Linked DNA regions of Homo sapiens. The protein of the gene in region 1 purifies or fractionates together with the protein of each later gene. This does not show direct contact. Each region holds a gene or a part of one and is shown in the gene's direction. Other genes may lie near its edges.

The links.
Region 2: the proteins of KLK2 (region 1) and ERGIC1 purify together in Homo sapiens (affinity purification with mass spectrometry; one large-scale study listed by BioGRID and IntAct). This does not show direct contact.
Region 3: the proteins of KLK2 (region 1) and SAMHD1 purify together in Homo sapiens (co-immunoprecipitation; one large-scale study listed by IntAct). This does not show direct contact.
Region 4: the proteins of KLK2 (region 1) and HDHD5 purify together in Homo sapiens (co-immunoprecipitation; one large-scale study listed by IntAct). This does not show direct contact.
Region 5: the proteins of KLK2 (region 1) and PCSK9 purify together in Homo sapiens (affinity purification with mass spectrometry; one large-scale study listed by BioGRID and IntAct). This does not show direct contact.
Region 6: the proteins of KLK2 (region 1) and AARS2 purify together in Homo sapiens (co-immunoprecipitation; one large-scale study listed by IntAct). This does not show direct contact.
Region 7: the proteins of KLK2 (region 1) and INTS9 purify together in Homo sapiens (co-immunoprecipitation; one large-scale study listed by IntAct). This does not show direct contact.

What each region holds. Positions count from the first base shown.
Region 1 is NC_000019.10:50,878,753-50,881,067, forward strand, and holds the end of KLK2 (kallikrein-2 isoform 1 preproprotein), read left to right. Parts: 3' UTR 1-1,815; downstream 1,816-2,315. UniProt on the Homo sapiens protein: Glandular kallikreins cleave Met-Lys and Arg-Ser bonds in kininogen to release Lys-bradykinin.
Region 2 is NC_000005.10:172,921,251-172,924,750, forward strand, and holds part of ERGIC1 (endoplasmic reticulum-Golgi intermediate compartment protein 1), read left to right. Parts: exon of another isoform or gene 1-276; coding exon of another isoform or gene 277-375; exon of another isoform or gene 376-837; coding exon of another isoform or gene 838-853; exon of another isoform or gene 854-1,052; intron 1,053-2,754; coding exon 2,755-2,859; intron 2,860-3,500. UniProt on the Homo sapiens protein: Possible role in transport between endoplasmic reticulum and Golgi.
Region 3 is NC_000020.11:36,941,709-36,945,208, reverse strand, and holds part of SAMHD1 (deoxynucleoside triphosphate triphosphohydrolase SAMHD1), read left to right. Parts: intron 1-3,500.
Region 4 is NC_000022.11:17,145,778-17,149,277, reverse strand, and holds part of HDHD5 (haloacid dehalogenase-like hydrolase domain-containing 5 isoform 2 precursor), read left to right. Parts: intron 1-717; coding exon 718-830; intron 831-3,500.
Region 5 is NC_000001.11:55,046,048-55,049,547, forward strand, and holds part of PCSK9 (proprotein convertase subtilisin/kexin type 9 isoform 1 preproprotein), read left to right. Parts: intron 1-475; coding exon 476-599; intron 600-3,500.
Region 6 is NC_000006.12:44,306,848-44,310,347, reverse strand, and holds part of AARS2 (alanine--tRNA ligase, mitochondrial), read left to right. Parts: coding exon 1-49; intron 50-2,906; exon of another isoform or gene 2,907-2,953; coding exon 2,954-3,099; exon of another isoform or gene 3,100-3,114; intron 3,115-3,272; exon of another isoform or gene 3,273-3,316; coding exon 3,317-3,425; intron 3,426-3,500. UniProt on the Homo sapiens protein: Catalyzes the attachment of alanine to tRNA(Ala) in a two-step reaction: alanine is first activated by ATP to form Ala-AMP and then transferred to the acceptor end of tRNA(Ala). Also edits incorrectly charged tRNA(Ala) via its editing domain.
Region 7 is NC_000008.11:28,767,970-28,771,469, reverse strand, and holds part of INTS9 (integrator complex subunit 9), read left to right. Parts: intron 1-389; coding exon 390-488; intron 489-1,443; coding exon 1,444-1,581; intron 1,582-1,722; coding exon of another isoform or gene 1,723-1,863; exon of another isoform or gene 1,864-3,093; coding exon of another isoform or gene 3,094-3,147; coding exon 3,148-3,324; 3' UTR 3,325-3,500. UniProt on the Homo sapiens protein: Component of the integrator complex, a multiprotein complex that terminates RNA polymerase II (Pol II) transcription in the promoter-proximal region of genes.

The sequences.
Region 1 (2,315 bases):
GTGTATGCCAATGTTTCTGAAATGGGTATAATTTCGTCCTCTCCTTCGGAACACTGGCTGTCTCTGAAGACTTCTCGCTCAGTTTCAGTGAGGACACACACAAAGACGTGGGTGACCATGTTGTTTGTGGGGTGCAGAGATGGGAGGGGTGGGGCCCACCCTGGAAGAGTGGACAGTGACACAAGGTGGACACTCTCTACAGATCACTGAGGATAAGCTGGAGCCACAATGCATGAGGCACACACACAGCAAGGATGACGCTGTAAACATAGCCCACGCTGTCCTGGGGGCACTGGGAAGCCTAGATAAGGCCGTGAGCAGAAAGAAGGGGAGGATCCTCCTATGTTGTTGAAGGAGGGACTAGGGGGAGAAACTGAAAGCTGATTAATTACAGGAGGTTTGTTCAGGTCCCCCAAACCACCGTCAGATTTGATGATTTCCTAGCAGGACTTACAGAAATAAAGAGCTATCATGCTGTGGTTTATTATGGTTTGTTACATTGATAGGATACATACTGAAATCAGCAAACAAAACAGATGTATAGATTAGAGTGTGGAGAAAACAGAGGAAAACTTGCAGTTACGAAGACTGGCAACTTGGCTTTACTAAGTTTTCAGACTGGCAGGAAGTCAAACCTATTAGGCTGAGGACCTTGTGGAGTGTAGCTGATCCAGCTGATAGAGGAACTAGCCAGGTGGGGGCCTTTCCCTTTGGATGGGGGGCATATCTGACAGTTATTCTCTCCAAGTGGAGACTTACGGACAGCATATAATTCTCCCTGCAAGGATGTATGATAATATGTACAAAGTAATTCCAACTGAGGAAGCTCACCTGATCCTTAGTGTCCAGGGTTTTTACTGGGGGTCTGTAGGACGAGTATGGAGTACTTGAATAATTGACCTGAAGTCCTCAGACCTGAGGTTCCCTAGAGTTCAAACAGATACAGCATGGTCCAGAGTCCCAGATGTACAAAAACAGGGATTCATCACAAATCCCATCTTTAGCATGAAGGGTCTGGCATGGCCCAAGGCCCCAAGTATATCAAGGCACTTGGGCAGAACATGCCAAGGAATCAAATGTCATCTCCCAGGAGTTATTCAAGGGTGAGCCCTTTACTTGGGATGTACAGGCTTTGAGCAGTGCAGGGCTGCTGAGTCAACCTTTTATTGTACAGGGGATGAGGGAAAGGGAGAGGATGAGGAAGCCCCCCTGGGGATTTGGTTTGGTCTTGTGATCAGGTGGTCTATGGGGCTATCCCTACAAAGAAGAATCCAGAAATAGGGGCACATTGAGGAATGATACTGAGCCCAAAGAGCATTCAATCATTGTTTTATTTGCCTTCTTTTCACACCATTGGTGAGGGAGGGATTACCACCCTGGGGTTATGAAGATGGTTGAACACCCCACACATAGCACCGGAGATATGAGATCAACAGTTTCTTAGCCATAGAGATTCACAGCCCAGAGCAGGAGGACGCTGCACACCATGCAGGATGACATGGGGGATGCGCTCGGGATTGGTGTGAAGAAGCAAGGACTGTTAGAGGCAGGCTTTATAGTAACAAGACGGTGGGGCAAACTCTGATTTCCGTGGGGGAATGTCATGGTCTTGCTTTACTAAGTTTTGAGACTGGCAGGTAGTGAAACTCATTAGGCTGAGAACCTTGTGGAATGCAGCTGACCCAGCTGATAGAGGAAGTAGCCAGGTGGGAGCCTTTCCCAGTGGGTGTGGGACATATCTGGCAAGATTTTGTGGCACTCCTGGTTACAGATACTGGGGCAGCAAATAAAACTGAATCTTGTTTTCAGACCTTATACTGTGTAATTGTAAGTGGACATTTAGTAATGTACAGGGGGTCAGGGAAAGACGGGGGATAGTGAATGCACCTGTGGGACTGGTTTGGTTTTGTGATTGAGTAACCCATGGAGTTATCTCTGCAATGATGAATTGTTTGAAAGAAACCTGATTGATTTTATACTGAATTAGAAGTTAATAAGCATGCTGAAAAATAAGAGAACATATTAGGAATATTGAGCAAGACTAACATACATAAAATATGAGAAAAAGGTAGGAAATATTAGGTGGGAAAAATATGATAATTGGAAAAAGTAAAAAAAATGGATTAATAGAATTGAGTAGAGGTGAAGAACGCAATAGTGACATTTTAGACTAGATTGAAGAAAAATGTCAAAGAAATACTGAATGATGTGAGTGCTGGCAGTGCAGATACTGAACACTAAAGACTCAGGAAGAGAGAAAAATAGGAAAGGAGGAAACACATGACTAAACACTGAAGGCAGGTTTTTTTTTTTTT
Region 2 (3,500 bases), on another chromosome or scaffold:
AGAACTCAGAGCAACCGCTCTACTATGGGTTATTGGGTCCCTGAAGCAGGCGATGCTGTCCCTCGAGGGAGATCTTGCCACGCCTTTGTTTCTGCTCCACTCCTGACCCAGCAAGTGTCCCTTCTCCACTGTAGCCTGCAGCTCGCTCCACTGCGAGTTTGCTGAGGCCGAGGCTACAGGCTGTCAGCTTGATGCCTCCCCTGTCAGCCACAAGCTCGGGCCCTGCTGAAGTAGGAATATTCCTGCAGGAAGTCCCCAACTTTGTGTTTGAAACAGACATGCTTACAAAATCAGACTTTGATGGGCTGCTGCACGATAAGCTATATTCCCTCCTCGGACACAGCTCGCACAGTCTTCTTCATTGGGCTGGAATAAGGTAACCCCCGAGTTTTTCAGTGTGGCATCTGGGGACCTTTGATAAACAGCCCCAACTCCTCCCTTGTGCCTCTTTGTTTCCTGCTGCTGCCAGCACCGCCACCTCCGTCTCATTTGGAGTTCAATAATACCAGACTCTTAGTTCCTTAGACAGCCCACATGCTGGGAAGTTTCTGTCCTCTGCACCTGTTCATGCTGTTCCCTCTGCCCAGATGCCTTTCGCTCTCTTCCTGAGTAATGCAGACTCATCTTCAGAGCCTTAACACAGGATGTCCTTCCCCCTGGGAAGCCCTCCCTGAATACAGCCTGCACCCTCAATTGAGCCGGGGGCCTTCCCTGTAACCCCCATGGTCTGCAAATTCCTCTGGGCCAGGGTGGATCCCACAGAGTCTCATTGTCTGTTCCAAGTCTGTGTCACAGGGGCTTGGCCAAGGCCAGATTCTTGTCTGCTCATCTCCCCAGTTCCGGCATCTCCTGAAGGACTGGCGCCATGTGGCCATCAGCCCAGGCTGCGGAGGTAGATGGCATCCAGGCATCAGAGGAGGGAGCAGTGCGTCCAACAGACGTGAGCTGAGACTGCAGCTCTCGACATGTGACCTTAGCAAGTTTCTTCACTGCTCTGAGCCTCCATTTTCTTTTCTGTAAAATGGGAATTATCAGATGACAAAGTCAAAGGATTCAGTGTTGTTTGTTTAGTCATTCATTCATTCAAAAAGTGTCTATTGAGCACCTGCTATGTGTCGGAGTCTGGGGAGCACAGCAGGGCGTGGACATGCTAATGGGAGGAGGCAGACGAGAACAGGATGGGTATGAGATGGCAGGTGATCCCAGAGGCTGTAGCAGGTAAGGGGATGGGGAATGGGGGCCAGGGTGCTCTTTTGCACAGGTGGACGTGGAGGGCCTCTCTGTTGGGCCCTGAGGGTCCGAGGGAGGGCCATGTGGAAGAGGGTCCCAGGAAGGGGTGCAGGCACAAAGGCCTAAAATGGGGCCACACTGGATGCTGTTCCCGGCACGGCAGGAGACCAGACAGGAAGCAGCAGAGGACACAGCAGCAGGAGGCCAAGCGGTGGGGACACGATGCTTGGCCAGCGGCCAGATGTGGCCTGTGGGCCACCACGAGGACATGGACCTGGACTCTGAGAGAATAGAAGCCGTGGAGGGTTCTGGGCAGAGGAGTGATGAGATCTGATGTAGGGTTTAAAAAGATCTTAACAGTCATTATTGGGAAAAGGCCCAGGCTGTGGGGAACATGGAAGCTGGGAGCCCAGGGAGGAGCCTGCCATTGTTGTCCATGAAGAGACGACCTTGGACCAGGGCAGCAGAGAAGAGGTCAGGCGCCAGGTGTGTTTGGAAGGTGGAGCTAACAGGGTTTCAGCTGATGGATGGGACGTCGGGAGTGAGAAAGGGGGGTTCCAGGATCATACCAAGGGTTCTAGTCTGAGCATCTAGGAGGAGGAGGAGGAGGAGGGTTCCAGGATCATACCAAGGGTTCTAGTCTGAGCATCTGGGAGGAGGAGGAGGAGGAGGGTTCCAGGATCATACCAAGGGTTCTAGTCTGAGCATCTGGGAGGAGGAGGAGGAGGAGGGTTCCAGGATCATACCAAGGGTTCTAGTCTGAGCATCTGGGAGGAGGGAGGAGGGTTCCAGGATCATACCAAGGGTTCTAGTCTGAGCATCTGGGAGGAGGAGGAGGGTTCCAGGATCATACTAAGGGTTCTAGTCTAAGCATCTGGGAGGAGGAGGGGGAGGAGGGGGAGGAGGAGGGACTTCGTGCTGAAACAAGGAGAAGCTGCAGTGGCTCCTGCCACATGGTTGTCACCAGCATCCTTTGTTCTGTAAATACTCATCCAGCACCTCTTGCTGGCTTGGCTCTGCGAGGGCTTGAGACCCAGGGAAGAGATGAGGCTACCACAGTCTGTCCATCAGGGATCCCCCGTCTAGGGCACTGGGGCAAACTTGGGTAGGAAATGATAGGGGTTTGGAGTCTGAGGAATCCCCATTAGTCTGCAAGCTCAAAGGTCATCCCCCAGCTGACTGTGGGGTCAGCCGCCCAGAATCCACAGAGCTGGAGGGGGAGCAGCTGCCATGAGTCCTGGCTTTGTGCCCGTCGCCCAGATGGGCACTTCACATGCACCCTCTCACCAGATAGTCCTGGCAGCCCCCTCGGAAGCTATGGTAGTGCCCCCATTCTGCAGATGAGGAGCCTGAGGCCCAGAGAGATGGGGTGACTCCTTTGCACAGTTGAAAATGATACAAGCAGGATCCAAACCCAGATCTGCCTGATTCCAGTGTCCTCCCTGGATCACACAGGGTGAGGCCCCAATGTTCCGCCCCCTGGAGAAGTCAACCAAACTCCTGAAACTCACATTTCTCCCCCAGGTCCCCGGCAACTTCCACGTGTCCACACACAGTGCCACAGCCCAGCCACAGAACCCAGACATGACGCATGTCATCCACAAGCTCTCCTTTGGGGACACGCTACAGGTGAGCAGGGGACACTCGAGATGGCATGGCCGGGGGTGGGCCTTCAGGGGCTCTGTCACCCAGTGCCCTCTGCCCTCTCTGGGCACTAGGAAGAGTTACCGTTAAGGTGACATCTAAGCCAAGCCTGGAAGGGTAAGAAGGGTTTCACCAGGAACAGAACAGGGAAATGGGTCCTAGGCAGGGGGCGTCTCAAACATCACCCCTCTCCTAGAGCGCCCAGCTGGTGGTTTTCATGTGAAAGACCCTCAAGGTTACTTTCAGAAAAATGGATCAGTAAGCGTATGTGACACGGCATGTTCTGTGCCGAGATGGTCCAGGGCACAAGGGCTCGCTTGGCAGCTGAGAGGGCCCAGAGCACTTGCCTGAAATGGGAGCCGGCAGGTGGGGTGTGTGGGGTGCGAGAGACCCGTGGTAGACTGAGGAAGGTGGAGACTGAAGGTCTGGTTGGTGACTCAGAGCACCCATCTGCAATGAGGAAGATGGACCCAGGAGGCAAGACTATAGGCAGGGAGGTGAGGGAAGGGCCCAGACCGAGGCAGGTGGAGGGGAGAGGAGCAGCGGTCTCGCATTGCCACGTGCAGGGGCAAAACAGAAGGACACAGAAACTACAGTCCCAAGTTTAGTCATTAGTGGGGTGGAAA
Region 3 (3,500 bases), on another chromosome or scaffold:
AAAAATTAGCCGGGTACTGTGCATGCACCTGTAGTCCCACCTACACTCAGGAGGCTGAAGCAGGAAGATCCCTTGAGCCCAGGAGTTCAAGGTTGCAGTGATCTATGATAAGCTCCTGCACTCCAGCTTGGGCAGCAGAATAAGACCCTGTCTCAGATAGGTAGGTAGGTAGATAGATACATATATACATACATACATACATAGTTACATAGATCCATCTCTGTGTATGGCTGTAGGTTCTAGGGTCTAGATTAGAGTGGGGCTCCTTTAATGATCTCAGTAGAGGATCTGGTGCTTAAATACTTCTTTTTTTTGAAGCGGAGTTTTGCTTTTGTTGCCCAGGCTGGAGTGCAATGGCACGATCTCGTCTTACCTCAACCTTCACCTCCCAGGTTCAAGTGATTCTCCTGCCTCAGCCTCCCGAGTAGCTGGGATTACAGGCATGCGCCACCATGCCCAGCTAATTTTGTATTTTTAGTAGAGACGGGGTTTCTCCATGTTAGTCAGGCTGGTCTCGAACTCCCGACCTCAGGTGATCCACCCACCTCGTCCTCCCAAAGTGCTGGGATTATAGGCGCGAGCCACTGCGACCGGCCTTAAATACTTCTTAAAATGAAGATTTTGTTTCTGTTAGAAAATTGGCAACAGTGGGGAAATATGGCCTTCTCTTCTGAAATTTTAGTTACATGTTGTTTGTGGTAACAGTAACCAAAGAATCAAAACAAAGGATTATACTGAATTACTTCCTGTGCTGTTGCTTAGTAATTGATAACAGAAGTACATTGTGAAACAAGATCACTGTAGAACATTTAACTGACTTCCAGTAAATATCCTTTGGATCAGAATCTCCAGGGACCTCATCTTAGCCCTTTCTTTTTTTTTTTTTTTTTGAGACGAAGTCTCACTCTGTTGCCCAGGCTGGAGTTCAAGTTCAGTGGTGTTCAAGTGATTCTCCTGCCTCAGCCTCCTAAGTAGCTGGGACTACTGGCATGTGCCACCATGCCCGGTTAATTTTTTGTATTTTTAGTAGAGACGGGGTTTCATCGTGTTAGCCAGGATGGTCTCAATCTCCTGACCTTGTGATCTGCCCGCCTCAGGCCTCCCAAAGTTCTTTTTTTTTTTTTTTTTTTTGAGATGGAGTCTTGCTCTGTCACTCAGGCTGGAGGGCAGTGGCGTGATCTCGGCTCACTGCAACCTCCACCTCCCAGATTCAAGTGATTCTACCACCTCAGCCTCCTGAGTAGCTGGGACTACAGGTGTGTGCCACCATGCCCGGCTAATTTTTGTATTTTTAGTAGAGACAGGGTTTCACTATGTTGGCCAGGGTGGTCTTGAACTCCCGACCTCATGATCTGCCTGCCTCAGCCTCCCAAAGTGCTGGGATTACAGGCGTGAGCCACTGTCCCCGGCATGACTCTTTCATAACCACATTTCAGCCCTCTCAGTCCTCTCAAAGTCCCCTTTACTACTTGTTTCTTGTACATAATAGTTGCTTACTATTTGACCTGAATGGAATTTGTTCTAATACAGTCTTTCTTTTCAAGGGAGCCATGTGCATGTTTGTGGACCCAAGTGCTATTGATTCATTCAGTGAATATTTTTGGAAAGCTCACTATGTACTAGGAATTCTTCCATGAATTTGGGGCACATGAGTGAACAAAACAGACAAAGGAACACTATATTGCAGTGTTCCAGAAGGAACACTATATTGCACGTCTCTGTGCCCCACCTCATAACTCAAATTCTGTAGGACTCCTTAGAGCTGTATTGTTCTGTATAATAACAACTAGCTTCACGTTTAAATTAATTAGAAGTAAATTAAGTAAAAAATTCCTCAGTTACACTAGCCATATTTCAAGTACTTAGTAGTCACTATGGCTAACGGCTACTGTGTTGGACAGAGCAGATATAGAACATTTCCATCATCGCAGAAAGTTCTACTAGACAGTGCTGCCTTACAGGTTGCCAGTGGGATTAGCCCTACCCACCACTCCATCCAGTTGCTCACAGTAGTACCAATGCAATCAACTTGTTAATGGACCTTTGTACTGTTTTTACCTAATTTCCTATTTTACCCTCCCTAGACCCCCCAATCCCTGTGCCCAGAGTTCACCCCAAGATTAATTACTTGCAAGCTCTTATCCTGGACCCTGCTTTCTAGGGAGAATCCAGCTTAGACAAGCACTCCTAGTAGGCCCTCAATTTTATGAACAACCATTGATTTATAAAGGTTTTTTTAACAAGTAAGAAACAGGCCAGGCGTGGTGGCTCAGGCCTTTAATCCCAGCACTTTGGGAGGCCGAGGCGGGCGGATCACGAGGTCAGGAGATCGAGACCATCCTGGCTAACATGGTGAAACCCTGTCTCTACTAAAAATACAAAAACAAAAAAGAAATTAGCTGGGCATGGTGGCGGGCGGCTGTAGTCCCAGCTACTCGGGAGGCTGAGGCGGGAGAATGGCGTGAACCCGGGAGGTGGAGCTTGCAGTGAGCCGAGATCACGTCACTGCACTCCAGCCTGGGCAACAGAGTAAGACTCCATTTCAAAAAAAAAAAGAAGTTAGATAGAAACATTGTCACGTTAAATATACATGTCAATTGTAAGAAGCATTAAATTTCAGAAATGTTGGAACACAGGAATAAAATTCTTTCATAATCTAGATATCCTGGCCCATGACTTCTTTAAATCTTTATTTAATGCCATGTCCTTTGCTAAACAAAACAACCCCCTGGTTTTGGGTGGTTTTATATACTCTAATCAGTGATTTTGGTTTTGTTTTGTTTTGTTTTTGAGTTGGAGTTTTGCTCTTGTTGCCCAGGCTGGAGTGCAATGGCGCCATCTCGGCTCACCGCAATCTCCGCCTCCCGGGTTCAAGCAATTCTCCTGCCTCAGCCTCCCGAGTAGCTGGGATTACAGGCATGCGCCACCACCACGCCTGGCTAATTTTGTATTTTTAGAAGAGACGGGGTTTCTCCATGTTAGTCAGGCTTGTCTCGAGCTCCCAACCTCAGGTGATCCACCCACCTCGGCCTCCCAAAGTGCTGGGATTACAGGTGTGAGCCACTGCGCCCGGCCGATTTTGGGGTTTTAAGCGATGAATACCAAATGTCAGTTTAGGAAAATATTAAGTGGTCACGGGGTTAGTTTAGGTTTGATATTTTATGCTATGACTCCGGTTTTGCTCAACTATGTGACTCCCCTTAAACTAAGTCCACCTATAAGTACTTCTGAAAGCCTGGCTTTACACTGTGCTTGTTATGTCAAACTGATGAGGAGGATAGGGGAATAGGAAAACACGAAATTTGCTGCTTTAATTTATCAGCTGTAATAATGCTTCTGTGTATCCCAAGATATTATTCTTAAGTGTTCTTATTACCATGGGTTCAGTGTGTACCATAGAGGCCAATGTAGTGCCTCTGACTCCCAGTCTATGTATGACTTGTAGAAAGATACTTTTTTTTCAATCTGGTTATCTAGTAGATCAGTAAAACCCTTTGCCT
Region 4 (3,500 bases), on another chromosome or scaffold:
ATAGCAGGTGTGGCTCTGGCGTCACACCTTGGCTTTCCTGGGTATGATGTGTGCACCTGAAGGAGTGCTGTCCTCCTCAGCCACCTGCAGCCCTGCACCATATCCCAACTTTGATGCATTCTTGTTTGTTGAGGGTGAATTCAGCTTTTGGAAAGAGTCCTTTGGAACCAGGAGAGTAAATAAAATAGCTGATTGATTAGATGATGCTGCTCAAAGTTGCATGTAAAATGTGACGGAATCAAATTGGTTCCTTGCTGTGATTTCCAGAGAGAATTCCAAAAACCTTCCAAGTAAAGGCTGCATTGTTAGGGTTAGTATAAATGTTAAGCAGCTAACTCTTAGCAGGAATGAAAATAGAAAGTAAAAGACCAGTTTCTGCGACAGTGACAGGGAGCACACATGAACCCTATGGCTTCCAAGTGGGGGCTTGGGAAATCCAAACTGAACCTGACGGGGTAGCGGTGGCAAGTGGTCAGAACCCACATCTGTGGCATTTCTGGTCTCTTGTGTGGCAAGAACTAAATGAGACAGGTTCTTCTCAGATCTGTTTGGGTGCCTTTCAGAAGTGCTGCTGGGTGCTAGAAAGGGCTTTCCTCCCCGTTCTTTTTCTGAGCGGGTTTTTTCCTTCCCTAGGCTAAAGGACCTGCCACCTGTCTCATTATTTCCCTCAACAGTTCTGTCTTCCTCTGCCCTCCCCTGTCTTGGCTGTCCCTACAGGTGGATGCAGACCAAGTTATCCTCTCTCACAGCCCCATGAAGCTCTTCTCCGAGTACCATGAGAAGCGGATGCTGGTGTCTGGACAGGGGCCCGTGATGGAAAATGCCCAGGGGTATCCTTTTGGTCTTAACTCTGGCTGAAGGGAAGGGGCAGGGCTGAGGTGTTTCCTCCCTTAGCTGAGTGGGGACTGTAGTGAGGAGTGCTGGGTGCTGGGGTACACAGGCGATGTTGTGGGCTCAGGGGAGGGAGGACAGCTCCCGACTGTGGTCAGTCCTCATGTCTGGTGGTTTCCAAAAGCCAGTTCTCATACCCCTGCATCAGAATCCTCTGGGGAGCTTAAAATACAGATCCCAGGGTATCTGCGCTGGAGCCTTAATTCACTAGGTCTCGGGTAAAACTCAGGAATCTGTATTTTTTAAAAAACAAAACACCTCTCTTAGTGGTTCTGTAACTGGGTTTGGGAACCCCTGCTCTAGCCTCTTCCTTGGGGTGCCCAGTCAGTTTATTAGCCAGTGGTAGTGAAGCAGCTACCGGGAGCCTGTCTCTGGGAGCCTGCGGAATAATACCTGGCCCGTTTTAAGCAACTGTTGTGCTGAGCACGTCCTGTGTACCAGCGGTCTGCCGCACACTCTGAATGGGACGAGGACCAGGATGAGGGCGTAGGACTTATGAATCAATCAAGGGCTTGTGCTGGAGGCAAGAATAACACCATGAGCAGTAAAGGAGCGTGTGCGATGGCGTGTGATCGAAGGCCGGTAAGCTCACAGGAGGGCGTCACAGGTGTGGGGCGTGTGTGATGGCGTGTGATCGAAGGCCGGTAAGCTCACAGGAGGGCGCCACAGGTGTGGAGCGTGTGCGATGGCATGTGATCGAAGGCCTGTGAGCTCACAGGAGTGTGCCACAGGTGTGGGGCGTGTGCGATGGCGTGTGATTGAAGGCCGGTAAGCTCACAGGAGGGCGCCACAGGTGTGGGGCGTGTGCGATGGCGTGTGATCGAAGGCCGGTAAGCTCACAGGAGTGTGCCACAGGTGTGGGGCGTGTGCGATGGCGTGTGATCGAAGGCCGGTAAGCTCACAGGAGTGTGCCACAGGTGTGGAGCGTGTGCGATGGCATGTGAAGGCCGGTAAGCTCACAGGAGGGCGTCGCAGGTGTGGGGCGTGTGCGATGGCATGTGATCGAAGGCCGGTAAGCTCACAGGAGTGCGCCACAGGTGTGGGGCGTGTGCGATGGCGTGTGATCGAAGGCCTGTAAGCTCACAGGAGTGCGTCACAGGTGTGGGGCGTGTGCGATGGCGTGTGATCGAAGGCCGGTAAGCTCACAGGAGGGCGTCACAGGTGTGGGGCGTGTGCGATGGCGTGTGATCGAAGGCCGGTAAGCTCACAGGAGGGCGTCACAGGTGTGGGGCGTGTGCGATGGCGTGTGATCGAAGGCCGGTAAGCTCACAGGAGGGCGTCACAGGTGTGGGGCGTGTGCGATGACGTGTGATCGAAGGCCGGTAAGCTCACAGGAGGGCGTCACAGGTGTGGGGCGTGTGCGATGGCGTGTGATCGAATGCCGGTAAGCTCACAGGAGGGCGTCACAGGTGTGGGGCGTGTGCGATGGCGTGTGATCGAAGGCCGGTAAGCTCACAGGAGGGCGTCACAGGTGTGGGGCGTGTGCGATGGCGTGTGATCGAAGGCCGGTAAGCTCACAGGAGGGCGTCACAGGTGTGGGGCGTGTGCGATGGCGTGTGATCGAAGGCCGGTAAGCTCACAGGAGGGCGTCACAGGTGTGGGGCGTGTGCGATGACGTGTGATTGAAGGCCGGTAAGCTCACAGGAGGGCGTCACAGGTGTGGGGCGTGTGCGATGATGTGTGATTGAAGGCCGGTAAGCTCACAGGAGGGCGTCACAGGTGTGGGGCGTGTGCGATGACGTGTGATCGAAGGCCTGTAAGCTCACAGGAGTGTGCCACAGGTGTGGAGCGTGTGCGATGGCGTGTGATCGAAGGCCGGTAAGCTCACAGGAGGGCGTCACAGGTGTGGGGCGTGTGCGATGACGTGTGATTGAAGGCCGGTAAGCTCACAGGAGGGCGCCACAGGTGTGGAGCGTGTGCGATGGCGTGTGATCGAAGGCCTGTAAGCTCACAGGAGTGTGCCACAGGTGTGGAGCGTGTGCGATGGCGTGTGATCGAAGGCCGGTAAGCTCACAGGAGGGCGTCACAGGTGTGGAGCGTGTGCGATGGCATGTGATTGAAGGCCGGTAAGCTCACAGGAGGGCGCCACAGGTGTGGAGGGGAGGGCTTGGAGTATCCCTGGGGCAGGAGTTGCCTGTGGCTTCTTGGAGGGGTACAGCGGAGCCCCAGGAGATGGCTAAGCTCCTAAGCAGGGGAAGTAGGAGGTTGGGAATGGGATAGGGAGAGGAAGGAAAGAACAGGAAGGGTGGTGCCAGGTTGTCGGGAACCTTGGAAGTAAACTTGAGGAGTCTGACCGACTTCTCAGGGCAGTGGAAAGCAGGGCACGCTTTATTGCTGATGGGGCAATCTGATAGAATCAGGATTTTGGGGAAATTCATTTTGAGAGTAATCAAACCATGTCCAGTTAAGATTGCAAGTTGGAATTGAGGATAGGAAAATGGAGGCAGATCTTAGAGGAGATAGGCTGAAGCTGGCTTGCCCCTCCCCAAGGCCGCCTCTTCCTTGATGATTTGGGTTCATCCTTTAAGATTTTAGCTCCAGCCCTACTTCTCCATGACTCCTCTGGACTCCCCAGCCCACTGAGGAGTCTCTTCTGAACTCAGCACTGA
Region 5 (3,500 bases), on another chromosome or scaffold:
CCCATTGGCTGAGCCCAACTGGAAGCTTTGCAAGGGAGCTGGTGCTGCAGTTTGCACTGAGCAGGCTGGAGAAGGCTGGAGAATAGACTAGGGGACAAACCGAATTGCCAGTGCTGTTATGTCATGATTTAGGCATGGAGTCCAGGGCCTGAGCTTCACTCCATGTCCATCCTGCCCAGAGCCTTGGCACAGCCTGGCTCCCAGACAAGATGTCAAGTTCAGAATCCTTCCTAAAAGGAATCCTCTATGCCAGACCGTGTTGCAGGGATATGGGAGTGCTGGGCTCCCAGCCTGATCAAGGAGCGAGAAAACTCAGGCTCCTAGTCTGTCCTCCGGGGCACTAGCAGGGACAAGGTGGGAGGCTGCTGGGCTGGGATGTGGGGACAGGTTTGATCAGGTAAGGCCAGGCTGTGGCTGTGTTTGCTGCTGTCCAAATGGCTTAAGCAGAGTCCCCCGGCCTCTCTGGCTTCTGCAGGCCTTGAAGTTGCCCCATGTCGACTACATCGAGGAGGACTCCTCTGTCTTTGCCCAGAGCATCCCGTGGAACCTGGAGCGGATTACCCCTCCACGGTACCGGGCGGATGAATACCAGCCCCCCGGTAAGACCCCCATCTGTGCCCTGCCCCACCCCATCTGAGCTGAATCCATTTGCTCTGCCCTGGCCTGGCCTCCCTGCTGGTGGTTTCCACTTCTCGGGGGGCTTTGGGACTCAGCACCTCCACTGACCCCTTTTTTTCTGTCCCATCCCCATCCCCTGCAGCCCCCACTGCCTGCCTTCCTGTTGCCCCACAAATGCAAAAGTCTTGCCTTAAATGATCCTCTTTTCCTTCTTTTCTCTTGTTTTCCTTTTCTCACCATTTGGAATGGCCCAGCAGGCTGCACTTACCTTGGAAGGAGGGTTCATCTGATGGTGACTCTACCTAGGGCCCCCAGGCCTCTATAACTCCCAGTGCCCTGCAGACTGGACCAGATCCTTTAATGGGATAGACACAACCCTGTCTGGGATGCCTCTGCCTACCTTCCTGTTTTGCTGCTCCACCTGCCTCCAGCTCCGTTTGGCTTCCTGGGGCTCCCTGCCTGGGCCACTTTGTGTCTTCCCTCTAGGCCTTTCTTTCCACTGTTCCCTCTGCCTGGTGTGGCCTGGCTATGGAAGGGAGGGAGGAGGAGCGGCCATGGAAAACGGTCTGCATTCTAGCAGGGACTTGCAGGTGGCAATTCAGTCGGGGAAGACTCTAGATGCACCTGGCCTGAGGAGAGAATGAAGGGTTCTAGTTGGACTGTGTTAAGTTTGAGGTGCCCATGGTGTGAGGTCTGGAGCTCAGCGCAGAGATGATGCAATGTGGTGGGTCCATGCAACATGGTGCCAGGACGCAGAGCTTGGGGTGAACTCAGCTTTCACCCCTTACCGGTTCTCGTGGGATCTTGGGAAGCCACTTTCTTCTATGAGCTTTGTCGTTCTTGTCTGTAAAATGGGCACATAACCCTGTCCCTGTCCTTCTCACAGGTTGCTGTGAGACTCCAATGAGTTGAAGGATGTGCAGATGCTTTTGGAAGTGAAAAGTTGGGGGGCTACTGTGTGACTTTGCATACACCCAAACTGTGTGACCTTGCATATGTCTGAGTTGCTGCCATTGCAACAGATCAGAGCTGGTGGGCTGGGTGTGGAGAAAGGGTTTGTGTGGGGGACATCCTCTGGCAAGGGTGGCAGCAGCAGAAGTGAGGGGCCTGGTCGGTCATGTGTGCTGACCCGGCCTGGGCAGCCTGTGGCCAGGGAGAGGACAGCTCCTCTGTAGGAAGAGCCTGTTCCTTTCCAACCAGGTGAGACCTCTTCAGTGGAGCCCTGGAGCCCCCTGTACTCCACATCAGTGCCTCAGGGACCTCCCGGAGCAGGCTAATATCAGAGACCAAGAGGGACACTGGCAGAGGATCACAGAGACCCCAGTCCAGGCAGGGACTGAGAAGATCTTGCCCCCTAAGTTAGTTTCCTAGCACTGCTGTGACAAATTACCACCCCCTCGGTTGGAACAAGTTGATTCTCTGCAGTCCTGGAGGCCAGAAGCCTGAATCAGTGTCGGCAGGACCACTTTCTCCCGGGGGGCTCCAGGGAGAAGCTTCTCTTGCCTCTTCCGTGTCCCAACAGCGGCAGCACACCAATCCCAGCCTCTGTCTTCACACAGCCTTCTCTGTGTCTCTCTCCTCTTCATTGTCTCATAAGGACACTTGTCATTGGATTTAGGGCCCACTGGATCCTCCAGGATGATCTCATGTGGGGAACCTTAACCACATCTGCAAGGACCCTTTTTCCAAATAAGGTCACAGCCACAGGTTGTGGGGGTTAGGATGTGAGTGTATCTCTTTGGCAGCCACTGTTCCCTCCTCTCCCTTGGGCCAGAAGCAGACGTGGGGCCCTTTCTTCCCCATAGGATGCCCATGGATTGCCCCCCTTCCCGCTTCCCCCGAGTGTCTGTGGGAGGTGGCAGGAATGGCAGGCAGGGGTGTGGAACCCCTTCTGGAGTCATATCAAGGGCTTGGCTGGAGGAAGTCCTCCTGGAGCTGTTGGGCTGGCATGGGGCAGGCTGGCTGGGCCCAGCAGCAGCTTCTTCATTCATGGGGAGGCCACAAGCATGGGCCCTAGAGCTGGCTGCCGCCCTCAAACCCAGACCCTGCACTCTTAACTGTGTGACCTTGCATACGTCACTCACCCTCTCTGATCTTCAGGTTCCTCTGCAAAAGGGAGGTAATGATAACCCTCACTCTGGGGGGCTGTTTGGAGGGTTAAATCAGTTATTGCTGTAGCATGCATTTCTCTGTCAGGTATTGAGTGAGGTGCTGTGATTTTAGCCCTGCATTTTTCTTTTCTTACCATTCAATAATAACGTTTTGAGCACCCACTGTGCGCCAGGCACCATATTAGGTGCTGGGGATACAAATGTGAATGAAATGAATGTGGTCTCTTCCCCCAACAGTGTATCCAGAAGATTAATCCATTCCTTAAACAAATGCTACTTGACACAGATTAGTTCTGGATAGGCTGAGAGCTCTGAAGGAGTGCAGGCAGCTGCGAGCCTGTGTATCCAGCAGAAGGATCAGGAAAGGATTCCTGGAGGAAGCGCTGTTCTAGCCAAGACCTACGGGGGCATTATTAACCAGGCAAAGGGGACGGTGTCCAAGCAGTGGAATGAACGTGGATTGAAGCTGTGAGGCAGGAGGGAGTGTGGCCTGTGCAGAAGGGACCGAGGCTGGTGAGACCAGGAGGGCCTGGGTGGCCTCCAGGTCAGATGTGAAAGGAAGAACTTGGCCACAGTCTGAGCTTCTCAGGCGTATGGCAGGGCTGCCTGGTGAGAGGGAATGAGCTCCCTGCTCTGGAGGTATGCAAGCAGGACTGGGCTCTCACCTGCCAGAGGCCACAGAGCTTTCCAGAGGCTGGAAGAGGCCACTCCAAGGCCTCTTTGCCCCTGAGAGTGGTGGCTCTTCTTGAGGCCACCTTGCCACGCTGTCAC
Region 6 (3,500 bases), on another chromosome or scaffold:
CACCTATGACACTGACCTCTTTTCCCCGCTGCTCAACGCCATACAGCAGGTGAGTGCCTCTTCCCTTCCAGAAGCCCTCTAACCTGCTCTTCACAGCCCTCAGCCCCATTGCATTCCATCTTTGTTGAGAACTCAGAGTGTTCTCAGCATCTGAGGACAATAACCAACCAAGAATTCCAAGACGTCAAGCAAGACACTAGGATTCATTACTTATTACCTGATGTTCCTCCTAACTCCTTGCCTCTTTCATTTATTTAGAAAATACGTGTTGAGTGCTTACTTTATGTTAAATCCTTTGTGTTTGGTACAGAAGACACAGCAGTAAGCAGGAAAGAGATCATGGAGATTATATGCTAGCATGAGAGATAGACAATCAATAAATGTGTTAAAGAACAAGGTAATAGCTTACAGATTGTGAACAGGCAGTAAACATGGGTGAAAGTAACTAGGAAGAAGGAGGGGTACAGAGGAATCTTAGATAAGGTGCTTGGGGAAGGCTCACCAAGAAGATGACCTTTGAGCTGAGCCCCAAAGGAGGAGTCAGCTACAGGAAGTTCTTTCCAGGCAGAGGGGACAGCAGGTACCAAGGGCCTTGGTACTGATGGATTAGATGGGGAGGGGAAAGAGAAATCAAAGATGGCTCCCAGGCTATTGGCTTGAGCAACACAGTGAATGGCATGACTGTTTACTGAGATGAAGAAGCTTGGGGAAGAGAGAGGTTTGGAGCTAGGTGAATCAAGCTCCCTGCTTTGGAGCATTTCCACATGTGTGTAGCTTATACCCTCCCTCCTTGCCCCGCAAGAAAGGGCTTGACATGTGCCAAAAACTAAAAGGTGGCCAGCCAGCTAAAGGAGAATCCCATGGGATATAGTAGGAACATGTGTCAGTTGGCTTTTGCTGTATAACCACCCTAATGCTCTGTGGCTTAACCAACAACCATGTATCTGCCCCCTGAGTCTGTGAGCTAGCGTTTAGGCTGGGCTTAGCTGGCTCATTCTTTGGTCTTGTGTGAGCTCATTCATCCATCTGTGGTGAGCTGAGAGGCCGCAGCTCCTCTGGGGCTTGGCTGGCTGTCAGTTTGGGGGCAGTAGGGGTGACTGGACCATGTGTCTGTCATCACCTAGCTGGCTAGTCTGGGCTTGTCCACATCACAGCTCAGCAAGGTTCCAAGACAGAGAGCAGACACATAGGCTCAGAACAGTGTTGTTTCCACTGTATTCTATGGGCCAAAGCAAGTCACAAAGCCAGCAGAGATTCAGGGGATGGAGAAATGGATTCTGTCCCTTGATGGGAAACAGCTGTAAAGTCCCATTTTAAAGTGGCATATGCCTAGGAAAGGGCCATTTTTGTGAACAGTCTCACAGAGAAGAAGGCAGAATCCAGTCTTGTGGGCCTCAAAGTCCAAAGTGGGGCCTTGATTCTCAGAGTGGTGAGAAGAGTTCTCAGGGCTGGGCACGGTGGCTCACTCCTGTAATCCCAGCACTTGGGGAGGCAGAGGGGGGCGGATCGCTTGAGGTCAGGAGTTGGAGACCAGCCTGGCCAACATGGCAAAATCCTGTCTCTACTAAAAAAATAGAAAAATCAGCCAGGCATGGTGGCACACACCTGTAGTCCCAGCCACTTGGGAGGCTGAGGCAGGAGAATCTCTTGAACCCAGGAGGTGGAGGTTGCAGTAAGCTGAGATCGTGCTACTGCACTCTAACCTGGGCAACAGAGTGAGAGTTCATCTCAAAAAAAATAAATAAATAAAAGTGTACATCAGATCATGCCACACTCCCCACTGAGAACCCTTCTTTTTTTTTTTTGAGACAGAGTCTTGCTTGCTCTGTTGTCCAGGCTGGAGTGCAGTGGCATGATCTCGGCTCACTGCAACCTCTGCCTCCGGGGCTCAAGCAATTCTCGTGCCTCAGCCTCCAGAGTAGCTGGGATTACAGGCACCCGCCAACACACCTGACTAATTTTTGTATTTTTAGTACAGATGGGGTTTCACCAGGATTGGCCAGGCTGGTCTCAAACTCCTGACCTCAGGTGATCCACCCGCCTCAGCCTCCCAAAGTGTTGAGATTACAGGTGTGAGCCACCGCGCCCAGCCTGATGTACACTTTTAAAAGGCTACTCCTGTTGCTGTGTGGAGGATGAGCTGGAGGGAGATGAGAGCAGAAACTTAGGAATCAGTTGGGAGGCTATTATCGGTCCAGGCAAGGACCACAGGGCATGCTTCGGATAATAGCAGTGGAAGTAGAGACAAGTAGATTGATTTGAGAGATGTCATGGAGGTAGGAGCAAAAGGAACCACTGATGGATCATGACGGGTAGGGGAAAAAGAATTCAAAGATGGCTCCCAGGCTATTGACTTGAGCAACACAGTGAATGGCATGACTGTTAGACGAAGAAGCTTGGGGAAGAGAGAGGTTTGGTGGTAAGTGAATCAAGCTCCCTGCTTTGGAGCATTTCCGTGTATGTAGCTTACACTCTCCCTCCCTGCCCACCCCCACAAAAGATGGGAGAGGCAAGAACAGGTAGTGGAGAGCACCTGGAGTCCAACAGGCCCGGCTGAGATCTCAGATCTGCTCCTTGAGAGCTGGGTAGCCTTGTGTCACTGAGTTCCTCTGAGCCTCAGCTTCTTCTTCTTTAAAGCAAGCATGCTAATACCTCCTGGAATGGGCTGTTTTGGGGATTCGAGGCCATGTTGTTCAAGTACTCACCCAGTTCTGATAGTAGAAATTCAGTAAATGGTCACAGATATGTTCACTTGTAGCACCAAATATGAGCCCCGTGAGGGCAGGGCCTGGCTTGTGCTCATCTGTGAGGCTTCTCAGCCCAGGACTGGACTGGCAAGGCCATTCTGGATGTGGTTGGCTTTAGGGCTGAGGGCAGATGCTCTAGAGGCGATAAAGAGCACCCACCTGGGCCAGGTCAGGCAGGGCCACTGGCTGACTCTTCTGCTTCCCAGGGCTGCAGGGCACCCCCTTACTTGGGCCGAGTAGGGGTGGCAGACGAGGGGCGCACAGACACAGCGTACCGCGTGGTGGCTGACCACATCCGCACACTCAGTGTCTGCATCTCTGATGGCATCTTCCCTGGGATGTCAGGTCCCCCGTGAGTCTGGAAGGGCTACAGAGAGGACAGGGGCTGCTGGGGGTCTCAGGTGGAGGAGGGAGGGAACAGGAGAGGTGGGTCTGGTTGAGCCAGTAGGAGGAATGGGGAGAGGGAGAGCTTTGAGGTGGGAGCACACACTGGACCTCGTCCTTCCCACTCCCCATATTGCTGACCATGAGCCGCTGGGGATTCATGTCTGGGCTCTGAACCCCTTTAGGCTGGTTCTTCGTCGGATCCTGCGTCGAGCTGTGCGTTTCTCCATGGAGATCTTAAAGGCACCACCTGGCTTCCTAGGCAGCCTGGTACCTGTAGTGGTGGAGACACTGGTAAGGACAGAGCTTCTTTTTCACTCTGGGCCTCCCTGGGCACTTTGGGGAGCCTACCACTGAGCCTAGACAGTG
Region 7 (3,500 bases), on another chromosome or scaffold:
TAAGGTCAGGCTGCACGGCAGGGCACCCATCAGGTGCAGGTGGTCGGAAAGATACCACCCCCCAGGTAAAGCCGTGGCTCCCACCATCAGGAGAAGTCAGACTTTCAGGAAGAGAGAGCTCCCTCAACCGCCATGCTGCTGTCCCCGTCCTTCCTGCCACTGGTCACCTGGAGAGGGGATGAGGGTGAAGTAAAGGCCAGAATGAATGAAAGGCTGCACTTGGTGTGTCACCTGGGCGACAGAGCAAGACTCCATCTCAAAAAAAAAAAAATTGTTTACCTTTAAAGTTATTTCATCTTTTTAGACTGCAGTGATGTAAATACAGATTAAAGGAAGAGTAATGGTCATCATTAAAGGCCCCCAGCCTGAACTGCGCCCTTTGCTTTCAGCTCGCAGATTCACTGGTGCCCATGGAGATCAAGCCTGGCATCTCCTTGGCAACTGTCTCGGCCGTGCTGCACACCAAAGATAACAAGCACTTGCTTCAGGTAGGGGGTGCTGGGTGGGAGTGCAGGGGACCCTCTCCCCAGCAAGAAACCAGACCACCTAACAGATTATATTTGAAATAGCGCTTCATGTGAATTCTTGTTGAAGAATTATTTCCCTGGCCATGTGCCTCAGAGAGGCTGCTGTGCCCAGAGATGAGGCCGCACGTCATCCCAAGGGCTGCCACAGGCACATTCTGTTGGGGAGCGCTGCCACGCGAGGCAGGGCTGTGGGGAGACGTGCAGGGTGGCAGGTGCAGCCCTGCCCTTGGGGGCTGGAACCGGAGGGCACCTGCGTGAGGCTGTGGCTACCTGAGAGCCTGGTCCTACCAATGACCCACACACAGGTGGGTGGCACTTCAGCTCCAGGGCAGGCACTGTGTCTTAAGAATTCCTTTCAGATCTGGACTGTGTCACCTTTATGCCACATGTAGAGTTGCTCCTAGCTACCACTTAAAGTCTATTAGACCCTGTGCTGGGTCCTTGACCCGCCTTGTCTTACTGAGCCGTCAGAATTCACTGCTGTCATCATTTCGTAGGCAGCTTCTCTAACCTTGGCCAGATGGTGGCAAAGGTGGGGTTTCCCCCTTTGGTCTGACCCCACAGCCAGTGTGCCCAGCCACGGGGTCATGATGTACCTGCAGCACGACACAGTGTATTCTGGAGAATTTACTCAGCAGATACTGAAGTGAACCACCTGAAAATTTAAAAATGGATCTTGATAGAAGGCAGAGATCTTAGCGAATAAGGTGTTGGTAGGCTGGACAGTTGAGCATTAGAGCGCGTGGATCTGGGGCTCCCGGCAGCCAGGGAACCTGAACCGAGTGCCGGCTGAGGAAACCGGGCCGGGGCTCTGTGGCCTGTGAGGACAGGATAGTCTCAGGCTCTCAGTGTGGCCTGCGGTGGCCCCTGCTGCTCAGAGGAAGCTCATGAAAGCCACTCTTTCCTTCTGCTCTAGCCCCCTCCTCGGCCCGCCCAGCCCACGAGCGGGAAGAAGAGAAAGCGGGTGAGCGATGACGTACCAGACTGCAAAGTCCTGAAGCCTTTGTTGAGCGGTTCCATCCCTGTGGAGCAGTTCGTGCAGACCCTGGAGAAGGTGAGCTGGTTTCGCTGGTGCCGTGAAAACTCCACACGTGGCAGCCTTTCCCTGGCTCACTATGGCCCCCTGGCTGCAGGGAGTGGATGTTGCTGCTTGTCACTTAGTCCCCACTGTCCTGTGGCATCTGTTTGGTCTAAGGTCCTGCTGGGAGACCCAGGAGAAAGAAAGCAGAGTGAGGAGTGCCCCATCCTTCCTCCCAGCACGAGGTCACCAGAAGGCCTCTCCAGACTGAAGAAAAAGCTGCTTCCACACACACATGTGACGAGTGGGGCAGGGTAGTGAGGCCAGGACAAAGAGGGACCCGGCCCTGCCAGAGTCTTGCACTTCCACAGATGACTCCTTGCTGTCAGAGGGGAGCCAAGTCTCCAGTCGACTGTCAGGATTTGCAGGAGGCAGTCGGGGGAGGGGACACTGGCCCTTCCCCTCTGTCTCAGCAGCCCTGATGGCTGCTTCTCCCAGAGATGAGATTTCTTGACTATGATTAAAAGAAAAAAATCTAACCTTAAAGGTTGTAATTTTGGCTTCAGTCACAGGACTTCAGAGATGACTTTATTAGGATTATAGAATCTTTGATAGGAAGAAGGAATTGGCTAAAGGTAATACTGTTCATGCTGCTGCTTGCAAGAACTGCAACAAATTACAATCATTACAAGGAAGGAGATTTCTATGAACTTTCTATCCAATGTAAATATCACAGTTGCCGACTTTCAAATCTTAAAGGCTTTCCCTTTCCTAGGATTGGTTTTCTCCACCTGTCTTTGATTTTCCCGTAGGGAAAAAGGCTCTGGCTGGGTGGTTGCGGCTCTCTTCCACCCTCCCTGAAGACCTTGCAGGGCTCCTGGGCCCTGTTAATGGGCCTCAAGCTGGACTTTTAAAAACTTAAGATGAGGACCTTCTGCCTGGCCCAGCCTATGTCCTGACCCAGTGTTCCACCCCGGCTCCTCTCTGCAGAAGGAGCAAGCACCTGTCCAAGTCCCTAGGGGAGCCTGCAGCCATGAAGTACAGGTGGCCTCCCCACACCGAGGCCCTTCACCTGCTGTGTGTCTGTTTCAGGCACATGCCTCCTTTCCATGTCACGTCTGATTTGTAAGGAATTTCTGTCCTTAGCATTAGCAATAGCTGAGAAGTTTGCACTGCTGCCTTCTCTCCTTCACTCTTGAGAGGGCTCTGCCAAGTCCCACAGGGGTATCTTGGTGTCACCTGGCATTTTCCTGGGAGCTCAGACAGCTGAAACTTAGGAGGGAGCTGTCACCAGGGAACGGCATGGTGCAAGCAGCTGAGCGTCCCAGACTCCTGAACACAGTGCTTGGACGTGCCCTCAAAGAACTCACAAAAGCTTAGCCAGGTTGTGGAAATTCTGTTGTTTTGCATGAGCTTTTGCATGTTTAGGGTCTCTTTTCAAGTATAAGAAACTATCACTATCATAGGCCTATGACTAGTCTGAAGAATTGTGTTGAGACGTGTCAGTTTCTAGAAAGTTCAGTCGAGTCTGTGAAGTGTCATTTACAGATCTCACAGATGTGCAGTCTGCCCAGCCCACCTCTTTCTTTTCTTCTGGAGCAGCATGGCTTCAGTGATATTAAGGTGGAGGACACAGCCAAGGGCCATATCGTCCTGCTCCAGGAGGCTGAGACGCTCATCCAGATTGAAGAAGACTCGACCCATATCATCTGCGACAATGACGAGATGCTCAGAGTGCGACTGCGGGACCTTGTCCTCAAATTCTTACAGAAGTTCTGAGTGGGCCATCTGAGCTACTTCCCTGAAATCCTGCAGTCCCTCACTGGCTGCCCTCACAAGCCACCTGAGGAGTGGCATGAGAGGCCATTAACTGTGTCTTTGTGGTGTCCTCTGGCTTAAGGAGTGAAGAGGTGGCTCTTGAGGGAAATGGTCTGGACTTATTCCCAGCACTGTTT